Linked DNA regions of Homo sapiens. The protein of the gene in region 4 purifies or fractionates together with the protein of the main gene of each other region. This does not show direct contact. Each region holds a gene or a part of one and is shown on either strand. Other genes may lie near its edges.

Evidence for each region.
Region 1: the proteins of WDR25 (region 4) and LRIG2 purify together in Homo sapiens (affinity purification with mass spectrometry; one large-scale study listed by BioGRID and IntAct). This does not show direct contact.
Region 2: the proteins of WDR25 (region 4) and MELTF purify together in Homo sapiens (affinity purification with mass spectrometry; one large-scale study listed by BioGRID and IntAct). This does not show direct contact.
Region 3: the proteins of WDR25 (region 4) and BMP1 purify together in Homo sapiens (affinity purification with mass spectrometry; one large-scale study listed by BioGRID and IntAct). This does not show direct contact.

What each region holds. Positions count from the first base shown.
Region 1 is NC_000001.11:113,090,198-113,093,697, forward strand, and holds part of LRIG2 (leucine-rich repeats and immunoglobulin-like domains protein 2 isoform 1 precursor), read left to right. Parts: intron 1-1,120; coding exon 1,121-1,186; intron 1,187-1,831; exon of another isoform or gene 1,832-1,943; intron 1,944-3,008; coding exon 3,009-3,083; intron 3,084-3,232; coding exon 3,233-3,367; intron 3,368-3,500.
Region 2 is NC_000003.12:197,012,818-197,016,317, forward strand, and holds part of MELTF (melanotransferrin isoform 1 preproprotein), read right to left. Parts: coding exon 3,372-3,500; intron 2,700-3,371; coding exon 2,548-2,699; intron 1-2,547. UniProt on the Homo sapiens protein: Involved in iron cellular uptake. Seems to be internalized and then recycled back to the cell membrane. Binds a single atom of iron per subunit. Could also bind zinc.
Region 3 is NC_000008.11:22,206,872-22,210,371, forward strand, and holds part of BMP1 (bone morphogenetic protein 1 isoform 3 precursor), read left to right. Parts: coding exon 1-110; intron 111-431; coding exon 432-645; intron 646-2,573; coding exon 2,574-2,824; intron 2,825-3,500. UniProt on the Homo sapiens protein: Metalloprotease that plays key roles in regulating the formation of the extracellular matrix (ECM) via processing of various precursor proteins into mature functional enzymes or structural proteins.
Region 4 is NC_000014.9:100,522,985-100,526,484, forward strand, and holds part of WDR25 (WD repeat-containing protein 25), read left to right. Parts: intron 1-2,885; coding exon 2,886-3,056; intron 3,057-3,500.

The DNA.
Region 1 (3,500 bases), on a different chromosome or scaffold from region 4:
AGCAAGGGGCAAAATGTGTAAATTGTTGTGTCATTTCTGTAAAAATTTGCTGTACATGCATAAAATATCCAGAAGTCTGCACAATAAATGGCATATTTTCATTTGTTGTTACTGGGAAGGGGAATTGGGTGGCTGGAAACAAAAGTGGGAGACTTTTTACACTTTTTGATAATTGGACCATGTGAATATATTCCCAAACTCAGAAGCTACACACACATATATAAATACACACACGTAAAGTAAAATAGCTATTTTGAAATTCAGATACATTTTTATTCATCCTTTATAAACATTCTTGTCTATACTACTCAAATTGACATTTAAGAGGACTTTTTTTTTTTATTAAAAAAATTTTTTTGGCTGGGTGTGGTGTCTCACGCCTGTATACCCAGCATTTTGAGAGGCTGAGATGGGCAGATCACGAGGTCAGGAGATCGAGACCATCCTGGCTAACATGGTGAAACCCCGTCTCTACTAAAAATACAAAAAAATTAGCCGGGCGTGGTGGCGGGCGCCTGTAGTCCCAGCTACTAGGGAGGCTGAGGCAGGAGAATGGCGTGAACCCGGGAGGCGGAGCTTGCAGTGAGCCGAGATTGCGCCACTGTACTCCAGCCTGGGCGACAGAGCGAGACTCCGTCTCAAAAAGAAAACAAAAAAATTTTTTTTTTTTTTGAGACAGAATCTTGCTCTGTCACCTACGCTGGAGTACAGTGACGTGAACTTGGCTCACTGCAACCTCTGCCTCCCGGGTTCAAGTAATTCTCCTGCCTCAGCCTCCTGAGTAGCTGGGATTACAGGCGTGTGCCACCACACCTGGATGATATTTGTATTTTTAGTAGAGATGGGGTTTCACCAGGTGATTCTTGAACTCCTGACCTCAGGTGATCTGCCACACCTGGCAAATATTTGTATTTTTAGTAGAGATGGTGTTTGCCAGGTGAGTCTTGAACTTCTGACCTCAGGTGATCTGCCTGCCTCAGCCTCCCCAAGTGCCAGGATTACAGGCATGAGCCACTGTACCTGGCCAAGAGGACTTTTTGTATTTCTATTTAGTTTCTTTTTTTTTCTTTAGGTCTACTTTCCAGGACTAAACTAAGAATGATATTTTGTCCTCTTTCAGGGATTTCAGTCATAATCGGTTGTCTAACTGGAACATCAGCTTGGAATCACAAACATTACAGGAAGTGTAAGTTATTTTTATTTATTTAAAGTTATGTTAAATTCCTGAGGGAACTTAATAAATTGTGATTTGTGGGATGTTTAATCCAGAGATGCCATAAAAAAATTGAAGGAAAAAATTAGTTAAAAGAAATTATTTGAAAACCTAAAATGTTTTCTTTGGCTTTGTTATTATCAGACTGTCTTGGCATTGGGTTGGTGATTTCAAGTTGCAGGCTGTGGGGGAAATATTCTACCTTCCTGGGGCTAAAAGTAAGATTTACGCCTCTTCAGAGTAAATGTGTTTTGATTTTGGCCAAGTTTTCAGCCAGTGAAACTCTGTTGTATAACCTTTTTAAATGTCTTGACATGTTATCTAAGATTGGGAGCATCATGTCTAAAGTAGATTTATATGAAATAGAGTATTCTTGATATCATATGAGAATGTAATGATTGATAGAATTAAGTTTTTCTCTTAACTAAAGTTTTTCCTTTAATACTGAGATGTATTATGTAATTTTGGAGGGAGTTTTCTAAGATATTATTAATATTAGTTTTTGCATTGTTACATTCCTAGAGGCACAACCGTTAAGGTATATAGGCCTATTTGCCTCTACAATTAACACCATCAGAACCCTGAGATTTACTTTCCTTTTTAATTCTTTGCTAACAGGGATAACTTCTTCATGCTCATTGTCTCTGCATTCTCTCCTCCTGGCCCCAGATTCACTGCTTCTAATACGTTGTGGATGAGTACACAGTTGACAAGTTTGTTAGCTGAAAGAGTAGGCACTGAGGAAAGGCCTGAAAATGCTTCAGTGGGAAGTGCATGAGCTTTATTGCATGGACTTTGTAACTTTGGTTGGTTTCCTGAAGGTCTTTACTTCTGGTTTCTTTTCTGTGTTCTAGATTGTTGAGGTTGTTCAGTGACTAAAAACCAGGTTAATGAAATGTGATTGTATTAGATTTGCTACTAAAACATTTGAGACAAACTGTTTAAAGGGCTGCTGGGATCAGATGCAACATGTTATGTTATCTGTAAAATTAGTCATAGGTTCCATCTCTGGGTGGGCTGATAAATTTCATCTGTGGTCTCAAGTAACACTCTCTAACATTTGTATAGCTTTAGAAAAAATATATATACATTTGTGTGTTGTGTGTTTATATATATTTAGAGAAAGAGAGATCTGGATGGACTGATTATGCCTTCTTTAAGGACTCAAATTAGCTGCCATAAACCCAACTTATTCAAAGAACTTTGCTTGAACTAACAATATTTAATGTGCAAAATACTTCATAACCTTTCTGATATTAATATCAATAGTAGATCAACACTATGAAAATACATTTCTTGGCCAGGCATGGTGGCTTACGCCGGTAATCCCAGTACTTTGGGAGGCCAAGGTGGGCAGATCACCTGAGGTCAGGAGTTTGAGATCAGCTTGGCCAACATGGTGAAACCTGTCTCTACTAAAAATACAAAATTAGCCGGGCGTGGTGGTGCATGCCTGTAATCCCAGATACTCAGGAGACTGAGGTAGGAGAATCACTTGAACCCAGGAGGCAGAGGTTGCAGTGAGCCAAGATTGCACCATTGCACTCCAGCCTGGGCAAAAAGAATGAAACTCTGTTTCAAAAAAAAAAGAAAAAAAAAAGAAAGAAAATACATTTCTCATTAAAACCTCTAATTTCTCAATAAATACATTTTTATTTTCGTCTAACTCATTCTGAGTCATATTCTTTTTCAAATTTGGCACCTATTCTAAAGAATATGTGTTAGCCAGAAGGTAGAATCCAAGAGGTAATATTTCCCTCACTAAACATTTAAATCTGTTTTTCCTCTTGCCTAGGAAAATGAATTACAATGAACTAACAGAAATCCCGTATTTTGGAGAACCTACATCTAATATTACTCTACTTTCATTGTAAGTTAGTAAGTTTTCAGGTTTTTTACTTAAATTATGAAAAGTATACATTTTTTTTTTAAAGCACATATATTGTTGATTCTAATTAACATTTTTGTGGCCTGGGGTGGATCAGTGGCAGCAGCTTCATTATAATCTTTGTTTTACAGAGTCCATAATATAATCCCAGAAATAAATGCACAGGCACTCCAGTTTTACCCTGCTCTGGAGAGTTTAGACCTCAGCTCAAATATAATATCAGAAATCAAGACATCTTCATTTCCTCGCATGCAGCTTAAATACCTGTAAGTAACACAGATTAAATTAGATTTACTTTAAAGCACATGTTTATGGGGACTGTTGTGGGGTGGGGGGAGGGGGCAGGGATAGCACTGGGAGATATACCTAATGCTAGATGACGAGTTAGTGGGTGCAGCG
Region 2 (3,500 bases), on a different chromosome or scaffold from region 4:
ATGGGGGCCAAATCGAGTGGGTCATGACAAGTGTCAGGAAAAAAAGGATTAGAATAGAATACATTAGAAAATAGTGGGTACCATTTGTGTCATATCTCTGTATATAAAGGACATACATTTTTAAATTTCTATCTGAAAGAAAAGTTTCCGTTCACTAGATTGTGATCAATGCAAAATGTATTCTGAGTGCTCGGTGCTGTCAGCAATGCTGAACTTCCCTATGAAAATTCCAATGACATTCTTTACAGAATTAGAAAGAACAATCCTAAACTTTGTATGGAACCACAAGGGACCCTGAATAGCCAAAGCAATCCTAAGCAAAAAGAACAAAGATAGAGGCATAGAAACGGACATATAGACCAATGATCCAGAATAGAGAACCCAGAAATTAACCCGCAGTTTTACAGCCAGCTGATTTTTGACAAAGGTTTCAAGAACCTCTTTGGGAAAAGAGTGATCTCTTCTTCAGTGGACGCTGCTGGGAAGAAGCTGAATGTCCAAGTGCAGAATGAACGGGGCCCTAAACTACCCCTCACCCAGCACAGGGACCAACTCAAAATGGATGAGAGGCCTAAATGCAGGGCCCAAGACAATAAAATTGCTGAAGAGAATATAGGCAAAACGCTTCAGGACATTGGTCTGAGAAAAGATTTTATGAAAAGACCTCGAAAGCATAGGCAACAAAAGCAATAATAAGCAAAGGGAATTGTATCAAACAAACAAGTTTCTGCACAGCAGAGAAAACAACGAACAGAGTGAAATGAAGACAGCCTATGGAATGAGAGAAAATATTTGCAAACTACTCATCCAACAGGGGATTAATATCCAGAATACACATGCAACGGAAACATCTCAACAGCAGAAAACCATCCAACTTAAAAACGGGCAAATGATCAGAACAGACGTTTCTCAAAAGAAGACATACAAAATGCCAGCAGCCATCACTGATCATCAGGGAAATGCAAATCAAAGCCACAGTGAGGTATCAGCTCACCCCAGTTAGGGTGGCTGTTATCAAAAAGATAAAAAATAACAAATGCTAGTGAGGATGCAGAATAAAGGAAACTCTTACACACCGTTGCTGGGGATGTAAACCCGGACAGCCGCTATGGAAAACAGTACGGAAGTCCCTCCACAAACTACAAATCGAACTATTGAATACCATATGGTCCAGTAATCCCACCACTGGGAATCTGTCCAAAGGAAAGGCAATCAGCCTGTGGAAGGGATGCCCGCACCCCATGTTTATCGCAGCACTGGCCACAATAGCCAGGATGTGGAATCAACCCAGGTGTCCAACAACAGAGGATGGATAGAGAAAATGTCATTGGCATGCACCGTGGAATACTATTTAGCCATAAAAAAGAATGAAATCCTGTCACTGGCAGCAACACGGACGGAACTGGGGGACACCGTGTTATGTGAAATAAGCCAGGCACAGCAAGTTAAACACCATATGTTCCACTCATATGTGGAAGCTAAAAAAAGTTGATCTCACAGAAGTAAAAAGTAGAACAGAGGATGCTGCAGACTGGGAAGGGTAGGGGAAGGGAGGAATAGGGAGAGTTTTTTTTTTTTTTTTTTTTTTTGAGACAGTCTCTCTCTTGTCGCCCAGGCTGGAGTGCAATGGTGTGATCTCGGCTCCCTGCAACCTCCACCTCCCGGGTCCAAGCGATTCTCCTGCCTCAGCCTCCCAAGTAGTTGGGATTACAACTGTGTGCCACCATGCTCGGCTAATTTTTTTGTACTTTTAGTAGAAACAGAGTTTCACCATGTTGGCCAGGCTGGTCTTGAACTCCTAACCTCAAGTGATCCACCCACCTTGGCCTCCCAAAGTGCTGGGATTATAGGTGTGAGCCAATGCACCCAGCCAGGAGAGATAGGAGGAATAAGCTCCAGTGTTCTATAGACTGTAGGATGACTAGAGTTAACAATAATACATAGTTTCAAACAGGTAGGACGATATTGCATGTTCTCCACACGGAGAAATGAGCAATGTTTGAGATGATGGTATGTTAATTATTATCCTGCTCTGATCACCATGTATTCTATGTATCAAAACATCAGTATGTATCTCATGAATATGCACAATTATTATTTGTCTATTTAGAAAAATCAGGAAAAAAGAAAAAAAAAGTCGAACAATGATCCACGCCCACTCTCTATTGCACAAGGGAAGGCTGAGATTCAGAAAGGGGAAGGGGCTTGCCCCAGGCTACAGGGCGTCAGTGCCCAGCTGGGCCAGCGCTTCTTCTGCTCCTGGCACCCCCACTTAGTGAGGAGCTCCCAGGCTCTCCAGGGGACTCACCCCTATCTGCCTGTCCCCTGGGGTGGGTGCTGGCCCCTGCGGTCGCTCCTCCCCGCCTGTCTCTGTCCCCTGGGGTGGGTGCTGGCCCCTGCGGTCGCTCCTCCCCACCCGTCTCTGTGGGCTTGTTGCAGTAGACACTCTCCTCTTCCCCAGGCAGCAGGGGGTGTGGGTAGTAAGAACTGCCCAGGCACTGCCACCACCCGCCCACCTGGCCCACGCTGCACCTGCGTGACTCCCACCTGGATCCGCTCCATGCAGTGTTGGGGGGACTTGGCTGACACGCACTGGATCTCTGGCTTGAGCCGCTGCCGGCGGAAGGCCACGGCCATGTCTCCACACTTCTGGATCTCGGGAGTGGAGAGCACACACCAGCGCAGGTAGGGGGGCAGCCCTGGGGTGGGGCAAGCAAGCGGTCACTGCCAGGCCAGTACTGCCATGGAAGAGCATGGAGTCGGACCCAAGGGAAATTCTGGGCCTTTCTCCTGTCAGGTGTGTGGCTGGGATAAGTTATTTAACCATCGGATCCCACTTCCTCACACAGAAAAGGGGCAACTGTGAGGCCTGAGGAAGACCATGGCTGGCGTGCATGTAACTCAGTGTGTGGTACCCACTTCCCTGGCTGGAGGTGGAAGATACATGGGGCCAGGGGGCTAAAGGCAAGAAGCTCACTTGTAGACTACTGCAATAGTCCAGGCGAAAGATGGCACCTGCGCCAGGGCTGTAGCCATGGGGTAGAGGCGGGGAGTAGGAGCGAGAGGCTGTAGAAGAGCTGACAGGATGCCATGGCCGTGGATGGGGGGGCGAGGAGACCCTTCCCAAGACAGATTCTGATGGTCTGCATCCTCCCCCGCTGCGGCCAGGTGGGGCTTCCGAGGTACAACAGGCCATACAGTGGAAGAGATGCCTCCTCCCCAAAGCCCCAGGGGCAGAGGAATGGAAATGACAGGTTCCCGCAGAGGCCTCCCTGGTGAGCGTCTTCCCCCGGCCACTTTCCCAGAGAGCCTCGCCATGCCCGAGGTTGAGCTGGGCTGGAGCTGGCAGCAGTGGGGACAGGTGGACTTACGGTTGGGGTCACAGAGCAGACCCTTCATGGCGTGCAGGTACTCATGGCCCAGCCACGCCTCATAGGTCTGTGTGGCGATGGGCACAAGCTCCGAGGTAGAGTCTTTGAAGAGTAGATCCTTCTGGCCAT
Region 3 (3,500 bases), on a different chromosome or scaffold from region 4:
TGACATCCACCAGTGGTACCATCACCAGCCCCAACTGGCCTGACAAGTATCCCAGCAAGAAGGAGTGCACGTGGGCCATCTCCAGCACCCCCGGGCACCGGGTCAAGCTGGTAAGGGGTCCCCTCCCCACTCCTTATGCGGTGTGGCTGCCCCCGGTCAGAGGCACTGCCCAGAGCCACACAGGCTGCAGGCTGAGCCCAGAGGTCTGCCATCCCCAGGAGACCCCAAGTCTGGCCTGGACAGAGGCCCCTTTCCCAGTATAAATTAGGGGCGTCCCTGCCTTCGCCCTATTCCTGGGCCCTCCTTCACTGTCATCCCCAGCTGTGGCTGCTCCCATGGGTATCTGTGAGGCCTAGGTTTGGGGCCCTCATCCTTGCCCCACCTGCCTTCCAGCCAAATTTTTAATCTGTGCTCCTTCCTCATCCCCCTAGACCTTCATGGAGATGGACATCGAGTCCCAGCCTGAGTGTGCCTACGACCACCTAGAGGTGTTCGACGGGCGAGACGCCAAGGCCCCCGTCCTCGGCCGCTTCTGTGGGAGCAAGAAGCCCGAGCCCGTCCTGGCCACAGGCAGCCGCATGTTCCTGCGCTTCTACTCAGATAACTCGGTCCAGCGAAAGGGCTTCCAGGCCTCCCACGCCACAGGTACTGTCCCCGGTTGTGGGAGTGTTCACTGAGCCTGGTCTCCAAGACTGGGGTAGAGTCGGGGGTTTCAATGCGGGTATGAAGGTACAGAGGGACTGAGCCCTGCGACCCAGGGCCAGGGTTGTGGGTGATGCAAACATTGTGTCCTGAGAACCAGGCCTGGGGGGCAGGGATAGGAGGGTGTGGTTAGGGGTTAGGATGGCAGTGATGACGATGGACAGGAGAGGTGAGGGAACTCAGGGACAGAGAGGAAAGCCCCCAGAGGTCCCCCTGAGCGTACGCGGGCCACCGCAGCAGCCCAGCCACACACCAACCCTGAAATATACTCTATTCATTCTCTGATATTTATTTTTTTATTTTTATTTTTATTTATTTTTTATTTTTTGAGATGGAGTCTTGCTCTGTCGCCCAGGCTGGAGTGCAGTGGTTCGATCTTGGTTCACTGCAACCTCCACTTCCTGGGTTCAAGCGATTCCCCTGCCTCAGCCTCCCGTGTAGCTGGGATTACAGGAGCCTGCCACCATGCCCAGCTAATTTTTGTATTTTTAGTAGAGACAGGGTTTCGCCATGTTGGCCAGGCCAGTCTCAAACTCCTGACCTCAGGTGATCCGCCCGCCTTGGCCTCCCAAAGTGCTGAGATTACAGGCGTGAGCCACCGTGCCCAGCCCATTCTCCTGATACTTATTGACATGTAACATGGATGAGGCGGCATCCTAAATGCAGGTCCCAGAAACAGACCAAGCAAAGATCCCAGCCCTTGAGGGGCTTGCTCGGCTTTCACTTGCTTGTTTATTTAGCAGCCATGAACTGAGCTCCGCTCTGCGAGAGGACTAAGGGGCACGTGGCCTGAATCAGGCATGAGCCCTTCACTCCTGCCCCCCACCCCATACTAGGAACTCGCAGTCCAGGAGAGAGACAAGGCAGGCACCGCCCGTGACAGCATGAGCCCAAGCGGGAGCCAGGCAGGAAGAAAGGCACCCCGGCCTAACTGGGCATGTGTTGGTAGAGGCATTCGAGGCAGGGGGAGGTGCCCAGGCAGAGACACAACCCCAGCCCAGCCCAGAGTGTGCCCAGGTGACAGCAGGTCATTTACTTTGGCCGAAGCAATGGGTGTGTGAGGACAGCAGGTTGTGGGAATGATGTGGCTGCAGAGAAAGGCTGGAGTCCAGGGGGATGCCTTGAGTGCCAGACCAAGGATGCCACGAGGGAGCTTTGCAGTCTCCTCCTGGGTCCTAAGCCACCTGTCAGGGCATCCCCAGAGCTGATGGTCCACAGCCTCCCCTCTTCCCCTTCAACTCAGTCCCTGACCCAGCCCCGTCCTTCCCTCTCCCCACCTCCTCTAGCGAGACCTGAGTGCCAGGTGCACAAAAGCCAGAGGGCCTGGGGAGGAGGGTGGCCCCATGCACTGTCCTCTGCCCTTCCCAGCACAGGGTCACAAACCGGAGGCCCGGAACTCCATCTGGCCCTCAGACCTGCTATGTTTGGCCCACACTGTGTTTTTTTTAAAAATGTGAGCCAACACTTAAAAGTTAGGAGTTTTCACATAAAACCCAGATGTACGGCTTCTCTCTTGAAAATGGAAGCTGTGGCGACACTGGGCCCACATTCTTCCATGACAGCCATCAGCTGGAGAAAATGAGCAATGCCCTCTTTAGACAAAGTGTGTGGTGCCTCGTGCCACCGCTCCATGCTGTCTTCCTCTCGGTGAGCCTCACTGCCTGTTCCCCTCAGCCTAGGGCCAAGGTCCCTCTATTTAGAGATGGGGCAGCACAGCAATGTTCTGGGCCAGGCCCCCACCCACCCATCACTGGCCTCGTGGCCTTCACCCAGGCCTCCATCCTGCCGTGAGGGCACGCCATGGCATAGTGTGCCATGGGGCCTGGCACCTGCGGTGCTCAGGGCTGGTTGGCCCCTCTTGTCCCCTACAGAGTGCGGGGGCCAGGTACGGGCAGACGTGAAGACCAAGGACCTTTACTCCCACGCCCAGTTTGGCGACAACAACTACCCTGGGGGTGTGGACTGTGAGTGGGTCATTGTGGCCGAGGAAGGCTACGGCGTGGAGCTCGTGTTCCAGACCTTTGAGGTGGAGGAGGAGACCGACTGCGGCTATGACTACATGGAGCTCTTCGACGGCTACGACAGCACAGCCCCCAGGCTGGGGCGCTACTGTGGCTCAGGGGTGAGGCCCCCACCCCTCGCCCTCCTGGCCCCATGCCCCACGCCCCACACTGTCCTCCACCCTTCTCAGCCCAGTCTCCAAGACCTAGCGCCCACACAGGCCCCGGAAGTTGAGTGCAGCACGCGTGTGGCCCTGTGTGGGAGCCCAGAAGCCCAGCCTTGTTGGGGCTACTCAGAGACACTGCCCCATCCCCGACGTAGGAAACCAAGTCCTTTCTGGGCAACCTAGAAGTTCCTGCGGCCTCTGACCCAGGCCTGCCTCAGAACCAGTTGGCCACGGCCTGGAGCGGATGGAGCTTCCTCTGTCCCTCCTTTCCTTACCCCTCCCCCAAGGCAGCCCACCAGGGCCTGGAATGGGGGGCAGAGGTTGGCACCAGAGCCGGGGACAGGGCGCCTGAGCGGAGTGGCCCTCACCAGTCCTTTTGCCGGAGGCATAAACACTCTTGTCATTTCCTCTACCAGTTTCTCCTCCTGATGAAAGGCCAGCTTGTCCCAAAGCTCTTGCTGCTGCTGTCCCAGTGGCCCCTGGGCACTGCTTCTTGGTCCATAAAATGGCACGTTAAGAGTCAATGAGCAAAAGTAGGCTTGATGGGCTTTTCCCTAAGGACATGGGCTAGCCTCGTGGGGAGGATTTATTTTCCTCCCTGTAAGAGCTTGCAGCTGCCTCTTCTTCTTTT
Region 4 (3,500 bases):
ATCAGGGCCAGGGGAAGGACCTGTGAGTGAATGTCATCTCACCCGGGGGTCCTGGGAGAGCCAGTGGCAAAGGCTTTTGTGTGTTGCCTCAGCCCTGCATGCCAGGATGTTGCTGGGAGCCGGAGGACCCTGGATTGCTACTTTTAAAGTAGTCGACCTTTTGTTCATTCACTCATTCATTTATGCATTTACTCACTTATCCAGCATCAATTTGACACACCTTACTGATGCCTGCAGGGGCAGACCCAGTGCTAGCCAAGGGTGACCCAGAAATGTGGGCAGCAGGGCGTCTGTGCCAGGAGCTCACAGTCCTGTGGCGTAGGCAGGTGGCTGATGTGGGCAGCTAAGGGAGCACAGGGTTGCGTGTGAGCCCAGAGCAGTGCCTCCCCACCCCCTGTCCTTCAGGTCTGGGTGCAGAGGACTGGCAGCATGGGGTGAGGGATAGCTGGGTGCATCCGCCAGTCCTTCTTCTTTCTGAGGACCAGGAGTACTTAGAGGCTCAGAGGTGTGGTTGGGGCCCTCGTGTTGATGACTCAAAAACTAGACCTAGGAAGGGAACGAACCTTCCCCAGGCACATAGTAAATCTGTAGTGGGCCAAGATTGGAGCCCAGTGACCACCCCCAACCCCGTGCACTCTGGAAGTGGCAGGAACCCAAGGCTGCTCTGGACGAGTCAGCAGCGGCCCAGCATCCCCCAGGTTTGCTGGTGGGCCGAGTGGTGGGCAGATTGTAGGGACATAACCCCTGCATGTGTCATGATCGATCTTCTGCTTTCCCCAAGACCATGTCCCTGCATCTCTACCAGGGGCCCGCAGTTGCCAGAAGAGTCTGAGTGAGACTCCCTTTTGGATCCAGCTCGTTAGGCTCGGGTAGCAGCGTCCCATGCCAGCTGTTGGTGTAATTAAGGTTGCCATAAAACCCACCAGCTAGACACACAAATGGCTCCTTTGCTCTTTCCTGGGGCATGAGCAGTTGTGAAGGCGAGTAAATCATGTTCGGTGGCGATCACTTCAAAGGCCAGCCTTCCACTTGCAGCCACATTATTGGCAGGGATCGCCCATAACACGGCTTGTTTCCCAGCCATTCACTTTTATGACACCCTAATGAATTGGGCCATTTCCATCCATTCTCAGAAAATGTACGGAACAACTGTTTTGGTTCTCCTCAAAAAGTTTGTCTTGGGAGGCAGGTGGTGTGTTGGCAGGGGCATGTAGGTAGTTCTTGGCTCCTGGGCAAGTTGCCTGTCTCTGAGACTTCATGCCCACCGAGAGAAGCTACCTATGGGGCTCTTGTCATGAGATAACTTATGTGAACCCCCCAGCCAAGGCCCAGCACCTAACGGGCACTCAGCGAGTGGCAGGGAGGGCCGTCATCTTCCTCATCCTTTCCCTGGGTCAGCCTCTTAGGGATCAAAGTGTTGAGGCTGGTGGGGGCTGTGATATCAAGGCCATGTGGGAGGATAGAGCAGGCACAGGCATGCAGAATCCAGTGCGTGGAGGAAGGCAGGCAGCCGTGCCGTGAGGGGCAGCTTGTCTCCCTGTTCTGCATTCAGAAGGCTTTTTTTTTCCACCCCTGGATCATTCTTTAGGCTTCAGGGGGCCCACTCTGAAATCTCCCTGGTTGAGGGTTGCTTTGGAAGAGGCTCAGAGAAGAGCGGTCATCTGTTGCCTACCCTCCCCCAGGAATTACAGAGGCAGGAATTGACCAGCAGGAGAATGAACCGTGGGTCCCAGGGAAGCCGTGGAGGTCGGAAGAGGCTCCACCATGCCCTGGCCCTGTGACCTTGAGCAAATCCGTACCTCTTCCTGGGCCTCAGTGAACCTCATCCAGAGAATGGGCCTCAACCTCCTCCTCCTCTAACCTAAACTGAAATTATGGAGTGACACATTTAATGTGAATTTGATGTATACATTTTAAGGAGGATGACAGAAAATATGTCTGCAAAATTTGAAAGGTATGAACTCCAATTAAAAAGTCAAGGTGGCTCATTTTGAGCTGGCGGGGCCCAGGGACTGAACTGTTTATGCTGCAGCCACATGGTGGCGGCCCAGGAACTGGTAAAGGGACCGGCCGGCCCCTGCGACCAACTTGAGACCTTGCTGCGCTTCCATGGCTGCGCGTGGGTGCCCAGCATGTTATTTCCATATTGTCATTAAAGTCCTGTCCTCTGTGAGTTTGTTAAGTGGAGCTACTTGCTGGTCCTGGTACTGGGACCCTTCTCCATCCCCTCACCAGAGCTGGATACTTGAGAGCAGAAGCTGAATGTGATAAAATCCTCTAAGAAAGCAAAACAACTGCTCAATACTTAATAAAGTCAGTTTATGAGACAGCAGACTGTGAAGTATCGGTGATGATGCTAAAACAATACAAAGTGTCGTTAAAGCTAAAATATGTCCTGTGATTCTGGCTTTATGGTCTGTCCCCAAGCACACTTGCTCCTGCATTACTGTGGCTCCTCTGGGACAACAATCTGGGACTTTGCAAGCTGTGAATTATGTGACGTCTTCAGAAGCAGGACCCACTCAAAGCATGACCCCAGTGTTGATGGATGTCAATATGCTCTCGAGGTGCCCTTGGCGAGTCAAGGCCCTTCCCTTTGCGCTTTCCCTGGGATCCTGCTGCTCTCAAGGGGTGATAGGGATGCCTCTCTGGACCCATGTGGCAATAGAGCAGGGGGGCTGAGAAGCTGACAGACACTGGACTGGGCATGGGGCAGGAGGGTCCATGATTCCATATATGGCTTGTGGGTGCTGCTCAGCCTGGGTGTGTGTGGCCCAGCATAAACTTCACTAAACCTGCCTGCCCCCTGGGTCCTTGGCCTTCCCTGCATAGGCGCCTGTCCGTGCTGCCAGGCCTGCCAGCATGACCGGTGTCCGCTCTTGCAGGTGATGAGAAGCTACAAGGCGACCATCCAGCAGACCTTGGACATCCTGTTCCTCCGGGAAGGCTCCGAGTTCCTGAGCAGCACAGACGCTTCCACCCGGGACTCAGCTGACCGCACCATTATTGCCTGGGATTTCCGGACCTCTGCCAAAATCTCCAACCAGATTTTCCACGTAAGAAATCCCATTTGGCATTGCTGTCAGTTTCAGCCACAGAGCGTATCCATGTAGTTCTGGTCTGTCTGAGGTCCCAGGTCCCTTCTGTGGGAGGAGGCTCACTGGACTGAAATCTCCAGGATGAGGGTAGTCAGGTCTCAGCCTGCCGCACACATGGAGAGCTTGCTGTGGGCTTCCAGATGCAACCTCCTTCTGCTCTTCTTGTGCCAGCACAGCAACCCCACAGGGTAAGGGTCTGGTGGGGGGCGGTTCAGTCCAGATCAATGGGGAACGTGGCAGTGCAACCTGAGAAACCCCACCCTCCCACTGCCACCACAACCAGCTACTCAGAAGGGGTTTCTGACCCTCAGTGGCATTGGCAGTTGATGTAGCCCAGGAGTTCAGAGCAGGGGCCCCACAGTTAGAACACCTGCATTAAGGTTTTGGATTCACTAGGACCTT